Homo sapiens: one gene and its partner. The protein of the gene in region 1 purifies or fractionates together with the protein of each later gene. This does not show direct contact. Each region holds a gene or a part of one and is shown on either strand. Other genes may lie near its edges.

What was found.
Region 2: the proteins of PBLD (region 1) and MARCHF2 purify together in Homo sapiens (affinity purification with western blotting, with the first as the bait; one study listed by BioGRID). This does not show direct contact.

The regions. Positions count from the first base shown.
Region 1 is NC_000010.11:68,322,929-68,326,428, forward strand, and holds part of PBLD (phenazine biosynthesis-like domain-containing protein), read right to left. Parts: intron 1-3,500.
Region 2 is NC_000019.10:8,423,023-8,427,041, forward strand, and holds part of MARCHF2 (E3 ubiquitin-protein ligase MARCHF2), read left to right. Parts: intron 1-3,586; coding exon 3,587-3,782; intron 3,783-4,019. UniProt on the Homo sapiens protein: E3 ubiquitin-protein ligase that may mediate ubiquitination of TFRC and CD86, and promote their subsequent endocytosis and sorting to lysosomes via multivesicular bodies.

The DNA of each region.
Region 1 (3,500 bases):
TGAGATCTCACTATGTTGCTCAGTCTGGTCTCAAACTCCTGGTCTCAAGCAATCCTCCTTCTTTGGCCTCCCAAAGTGCTGGGATTACAGGTGTGAGCCACTGTGCCAGCCAAATATAAGATGTTAACAGAGGAAACTGAGTGAGCCATATATAGGAATTCTATGTAATATCTTTGCAACTTTTCTATAAATCTACAACTATTCAAAAATCTAAAATTTTATTTTTTTTAATGATCTGAGGCCTGCCAATAGCCATGGGAGTGAGCTTTTAAGCAGATCCTACCCTAGTTGACCCTTGAGATAACTGAAGCTCCAGCTGACATTTTAATTATACCCTTATAAGAGACCCTAGGCTGGGCATGGTGGCTCACGCCTGTAATCCCAGCACTTTGGGAGGCCAAAGTGGGTGGATCACATGAAGTCAGGGGTTCAAGACCAGGTGGGCCAACATTGGGAAAACCCGTCTCTACTAAAAATACAAAAATTAGCCAGGCTTCGTGGAGCATACCTGTAATCCCAGCTACTCAGGAGGCTGAGGCTGGAGAACAGCTTGAACCCATGAGGCAGAGGTTGCAGTGAGCTGAGCACACCACTGCACTCCAGCCTGAGGGACAGAGTGAGATTCCATCTCAAAAAAGAAGAAAAAGAGATCCTGGGCTAGAAGCATCCAGCTAAGCTGCCCCAAGATTTCTGATCCACAGAAATTATGAAATAATAAAAGTTTGTTGTTTTAAGCTGTTAAGTTTTGGAGCAATTTGTTACACAGCAATAATAACTAATAGAGTATACTTCCTTTTATGTAGAATATTCAGAAGTATCCCCCACAAAAACACTGGGATAATTTGCATTCCATTTGTTTGATAGTTATATTCTTCACTGTAAATAATAAATTCTCATTCTAGTTTTTACAACAGATTCCACAGCAAATTTACTTAGCCTGAGGCCATCCCAAAAAACTTATTTTGAAGTATAAAAGCAAAATATATGTCAATGAATGCCAAATCTACATTCCTATCCAGATTAATTTCCTACTAGACACATTCACTCGGACAGTACATGGCATCTCAAAATCAACACACCCGATATTCCTGTATTTCCTATGTCAGTTAAAATTCTCAGCATCCAACCCTAAGCCAAAAATAATTCATCCTTGACTTCTTTTCACTCACCCATGCACAGCCTTTCTACTCAAGCACTAAACCCTGCTGATAAATAGCTCCTAATTTTCTTTTTTTTTTTTGAGATAGAGCTGGGACCACAGGTGTGCGCCACCATGCCTCGCTCTGTTGCCAGGCTGGAGTGCAGTGGCACGATCTGGGCTCACTGCAACCTCTGCCTCCTGGGTTCAAGCGATTCTCCTGCCTCAGCCTCTCAAGTAGCTGGGACTACAGGTGCGCGCCACCATGCCCAGCTAATTTTTGTATTTTTTGTAGAGATGAGGTTTCACCATGTTGGCCAGGATGGTCTCGATCTCTTGACCTCATGATCTGCCCACCTTGGCCTCCCAAAGTGCTGAGATTACAGGTGTGAGCCACTGTGCCCAGCCAAATATTTCTTAAAGAGAGCCTCCTGTATCTATCCCTAATACCATTGCTCTAGTTTAAGTATTCATCATCTCTACTGGTCCTTCTCCTAGTCTTCTCTCTTCTTACCCTCCCAATATCTACCCTCCACACTTTATTTATTTATTTATTTATTTATTTATTTAGAGACAGGGTGTCACTCGCCCAGACTGGAGTGCAGTGGCACAATCTCAGCTCACCACAACCTCTGCCTCACAGGCTCAAACGATTCTCCTGCCTCAGCCTCCCAAGTAGCTGAGATTACAGGCATGTGCCACTATTGCCCGGCTAATTTTTGTATTTTTAGTACAGACAGGGTCTCACCATGTTGGCCAGGCTGGTCTTGAACTCCTGACCTCAAATGATCCACATGCCTTGGCCTCCCAAAGTGCTGGGATTACAGGCGTGAGCCATCATGCCCAGCCAACTCTCCACACTTTAATCAGAACTATCTAATTAAAACACTACATCTGGGCTAGGTGCAGTTGCTCACACCTGTAATCCCAGAACTTTGGGAGGCCGAGACAGGCAGATCACGAGGTCAGGAGTTCAAGACCAGCCTGGCCAACATGGTGAAACCCTGTTTCTACTGAAAATACAAAAAGTAGCCAGGTGCGGTGGCAGGCACCTGTAATCCCAGCGACTCGGGAGGCTGAGGCAGGAGAATTGCTTGAACCCGGGAGGCGGAAGTTGCAGTGAGCTGAGACTGTGCCACTGCACTCCAGACTGGGTGACAAAACAAGACTCCGTCTCAGGGAAAACAACAAAACAAAACAAAAACCCACTACATTGGCCGGGAATGGCGGCTCATGCCTGTAATCCCAGCACTTTGTGTGGCCAAGAGAGGTGGATCACTTGAGGTGAGGAGTTTGAGACCAGCCTGGCCAACATGGTGAAACCCCGTGTCTACCTAAAAATACAAAAATTAGCCAGGCGTGGTGGTGTATGCCTGTAGTCCCAGCTACTCAGGAGGCTAAGGCAGGAGAATCACCTGAACCTGGGAGGCAAAGATTGCAATGAGCTGAGATCACGCCACTGCCCTCAAGCCTGGGAAACACAGTGAGACTGCATCTCAAAAACAATACAAAAAAACCCAAAAAGCACTACATTGATCATCAATCTTAAAAGCCAAGCTCCATAGGGTAGCACACAAACTTCTCCAAGATCTGGTTCCTACCTACTTCCTTATTTTACAATGTTTCACCTGCTTAGAGTTTCCACTTCTGCCGTTATTTTGTACATCCATGCCTTGGATCTTACTGCGTCCTCAACTGTAAATGCTTTTCCTATTTTTCATTGCCCCACTAAATTTTACTTATCCTCCAACACTTAACTCATGAGTTGTCTCCTTCAGAAAGCTTTCTCTGAAGCCCTAGACTGTGTGAATGGCCAGATTCTGTGCTCCCCAAACACTCTGTGCTTACCCTATTTTGTCACTTGCTACAGTTTAATGTAATTTATCTATGTAATGGAATGTATCTGTATGCTCTTGAAAGTCAGGGACAGGTTCACTTTATGTACGTGCATTTTTTTTTTAGCTCATCCAACATTATAGAATGTACTTGATTTTTCTGTTTTGTTTTGTTTTTGTTTTTTGAGATGGAGTCTTACTCTGTTGCCGAGGTTGGAGCACAGTGGCGCAATTTCGGCTCATTGCAACCTCCGCCTCCTGAGTAGCTGGGATTACAGGCATGCAGTATCATGCCCGGTTAATTATTTTTGTATTTTTAGTAGAGACGTGGTCTCACCATGTTGCCCAGGCTGATCTTGAACTCCTGATCTCAAGTGATCCGCCAGCTTCGGCCTACTAGAGTGCTGGGATTACAGGCATGAGCCACTGTGCCAAGCTGTACTTGTATTTTTTATGGATGGATGGAAACATATACTGACCTACTAGGAATTCAGTAATGCTCTCAAATCAATTTCCATTTATTAATA
Region 2 (4,019 bases), on another chromosome or scaffold:
CTTTTTTTTTCCTCTCTTCTCTGAATTTGTTTTTTTGTTTTGTTTTGTTGTTTTGGAGACAGAGTCTCACTTTGTCACCCATGCTGGAGTGCAGTGGCATGATCTCAGCTCACTGCAACCTCTGCCTCCTGGGTTCAAGCGATTCTCCTGCCTCAGCCTCCCAAGTAGCTAGGATTACAGCCCCCCCGCCCCGACCATGCCCGACTAATTTTTGTATTTTTTTAGTAGAGACGGGGTTTCACCATGTTAGTCAGGCTGGTCTCCTGACCTCAGATGACCCACCCACCTCGGCCTCCCAAAGTGTTGGGATTACAGGCATGAACCACTGTGCCTGGCCTCTTCTCTGAATTTGCTCTCCCAAACTTTTTCACAGTTTCCCAGAACAAGCTCCAAACTGACATGATTCTTCCTCAAGATTCTCGTCACTTCTGTTTCCCTGGGTTGGTTTCCGGACAAAGGGTTCCTTTTTTGTTAACTTTGTTTGTGTGTGTACTTGGGGGAGGGTGGGATCGGGGTATGGGTTCAGAAAGGAGGCAGGCAGGCATGCCCTTTTGCCATTGCAGGAGGAAATAGCAGTCCAGGGACAGGACTGTTGAGAAAGCAGCCATGAGCAGCCTGTTGGGCTCTTTTTAAAGCCGCCCAACTCCACCCCGCAGCATGAGAATCTGAGAAAAGGATAGAAAACAGTCATTTCCAGGCAGGCGTGGTCGCTCATGCCTGTAGTCCCAGCACTTTGGAAGTCCAAGGCTGAAGGATCGCTTGAGCCCAGAAGCTCAAGACCAGCCTGGTCAACATAGTGAGACCCCCCTCTCTAGAAAAAGTTAAAAAATATTAGCTGTGTGGCGTGGTGCCACCTGTAGTCCCAGCTACTCGGGAGACTGAGGCAGGAGGATCGCTCGAGCTAGGGAGTCCGAGGCTGCAGTGAGCTGTGATTGCACCACTGCACTCCAGCCTGGGTGACTCAAAAAAAAAAAAAAAAAAGAAAGAAAAAAAAATACAGTCTCTCTGAGAGGAAATTGGCGTTGTCTGGAAAATAGCTCTTCTTTGTGTGACCTCACAGTCTGCCTTCTGGCCAGAAATGTTTGGGAAACAGTGACTCATGGCTGTTTGGCCTCTGGGCCACGCCCCCTGCCTCCTGAGCTGCCCTGGGAAGGACCCGGCATCCCCAGAGACTGGGCCAGGGCTGGAGACTTTTCCGAGGCAGCTTTCTGCAGATGCTTTTTATTTCTATTTCCCCCTCACAAGGGCAGAGGAGCAGGTGAGCACTTCTCTCTGGATGCACAGGTTTCTCAGGTAGCACGGGCTTCAGGTGTGATTAGATCCAGGGGCCCGCAAAGATGTCCTTAAGAATCTACCTTTCCCAGGCCTTGCGCAGTGGCTCACGCCTGTAATCCCAGCACTTTGGGAGGCCGAGGCGGGTGGATCACGAGGTCAGGAGATCGAGACCATCCTGGCTAACACGGTGAAACCCCGTCTCTACAAAAAATACAAAAAATTAGCCGGGCGTGGTGGCCGGCGCCTGTAGTCCTAGCTACTCTGGAGGCTGAGGCAGGAGAATGGCATGAACCTGGGAGGTCGAGCTTGCAGTGAGCCGAGATCGCGCCACTGCACTCCAGCCTGGGTGACAGAGCAACACTGTCTCAAAAAAAAGAAAAAAAAAAATCTACCTTTCCCTGTCTCTTGGCTCTGCTCTCCTCTGTGCTGGCATCATTCACAGGCTCCACACAGACTAGGCAGCTGCAGGAGCTCCAGGCTTCTGTCAGCCTTGTGGCCGACAGTTCTGGAGTTTACGGGGAAACAAAGAATTTTAGGAATAGATTATCGGTGACTCTGATGGTATCATACAAGCCTGAGTTGGTTGCATGAGCAGGGGTGCGTGCTGTTCTATTTTCTTTTTCTTTTTTTCAAATGGTCTCACTCTGTTGTCCAAGCTGGAGTATAGTGGTACAATTATGGGTCATTGGAGCTTTGAACTCCTGGGCACATGTGATCCTCCTGCCTCAGCCTCCCAAGTAGCTGGGACCACAACATGTACCACCACGCCAAGATAAGTCTTTAAAAAAAATTTTGGGACCGGGCGTGGTGGCTCACGCCTGTAATCCCAGCACTTTGGGAGGCTGAGGCGGGCAGATCACGAGGTCAGGAGATTGAGACCATCCTGGCTAACACGGTGAAACCCCGTCTCTACTAAAATACAGAAAAAAAAAAAATTAGCTGGGCATGGTGGCATGTGCCTGTAGTCTCAGCTACTCGGGAGGCTGAGGCTACTCGGGAGGCTGAGGCAGGATAATCGCTTGAACCTGGGAGGTGGAGGTTGCAGTGAGCTGATATCACACCACTGCACTCCAGCCTGATGACAGAGCGAGACTCCATCTCAAAAAAAAAAAAAGAAAATTTTTTTTTTATAGAGATGAGATCTCACTAGGTTGCCCACACTGGCCTTGAACTCCTCGGCTCAAGTGATCCTCCCGCTTCAGCCTTCCAAAGTGCTAGAATTACAAGCATGAGCTACTGCTCCCGGCCTGGTGTTCTGACTGGTCCAGTATGAGGCCTGAGGTCATGAGGAGTGTTGTCTGCTCTGCCCTAGTCCTTGAGGATTTTTTTTTTTTTTTGAGACGGAGCCTCACTCTGTCACCCAGGCTGGAGTGCAGTGGTGTAATCTCGGCTCACTGTAACCTCTGCCTTCCAGGCTGAAGTGATACTCCTGCCTCAGCCTCCCCAGTAGCTGGGATTACAGGCACCTACCACCACGCCCAGCTAATTTTTGTATTTTTAGTAGAGACGGGGTTTCACCATGTTGGCCAGGCTGGTCTTGAAATCCTGACCTCATGATCCTCCTGCCTTGGCCTCCCAAAGTACTGGGATTACAGGAATGAGCCACCTCACCCAGCTGGTCTTTGAGGATTAAGAGTCGAGGATTGGGGGCCGGGTGCGGTGGCTCACGCCTGTAATCCCAGCACTTTGGGAGCCTGAGGCAGGCGGATCACAATATCAGGAGATCGAGACCATCCTGGCTAACACGGTGAAACCCCGTCTCTACTAAAAATACAAAAACACAATTAGCCGGGCGTGGTGGCAGGTGCCTGTAGTTCCAGCTACTCGGGAGGCTGAGGTGGGAGAATGGCGTGAACCCGGGAGGCGGAGCTTGCAGTGAGCCGAGATCGCACCACTGCACTCCAGCCTGGGTGACAGAGCGAGACTCTGTCTCAAAAAAAAAAAAAAAAAAAAAAAGAGTTGAGGGTGGGGAAGTTGTGCAGGACAATCAGGGTGGGTATTTTAGGGAAATTTGGAGAGGACATGGGGGCGGGTATAACAGATGCCCATCTTGGGTCTGAGAGGGTGCTGCAGGGTCCCTGGGAAGGGAACACATCACTCCACCTGTGGGAGTCTGGGAAGGCTTCGCAAGGTTACCTTCCCTGCATCTCCTTCCCAAAGGGAAGGACATTTAGAGCTGGGCATTGAAGGATGAGTAGGAGTTCACTAAGTGGCAGCATGGGGTAAGGGTGAGCTTGTGATCCAGTGGGTAGTGAAGCAGGTATAGACAGAAAGCCCAATCATTGCTCATGGGTCCTATCTCTGTGTCCAGTGATGGTCCTTTCTGCCGGATCTGCCATGAGGGAGCGAACGGGGAGTGCTTGCTGTCCCCGTGTGGCTGCACCGGCACGCTGGGTGCCGTGCATAAGAGCTGTCTGGAGAAGTGGCTTTCCTCATCTAACACCAGCTACTGCGAGCTGTGCCACACGGAGTTTGCAGTGGAGAAACGGCCTCGACCCCTCACAGAGGTACCCTTAAGAGTCTGAGACTGCGGTGGGCAGTGGGGAGAGGGCAGACATGGGGGCCAAAGGCAGGAGCTGCCCCGGGCAATCTGGTGGTCCTCCTAGGGCAGAACTCCCTACCGCCCCTGTCCACCAGGTGGGTCTGCTGATGGTGTGTCAGAAACCAGGCCTAGGGTTTAAGAGCTCCCAGACCCATTAACCTCTCCCTGTTTTCATTCAGTCTTTCTTCTTCTTCTTTCTTCT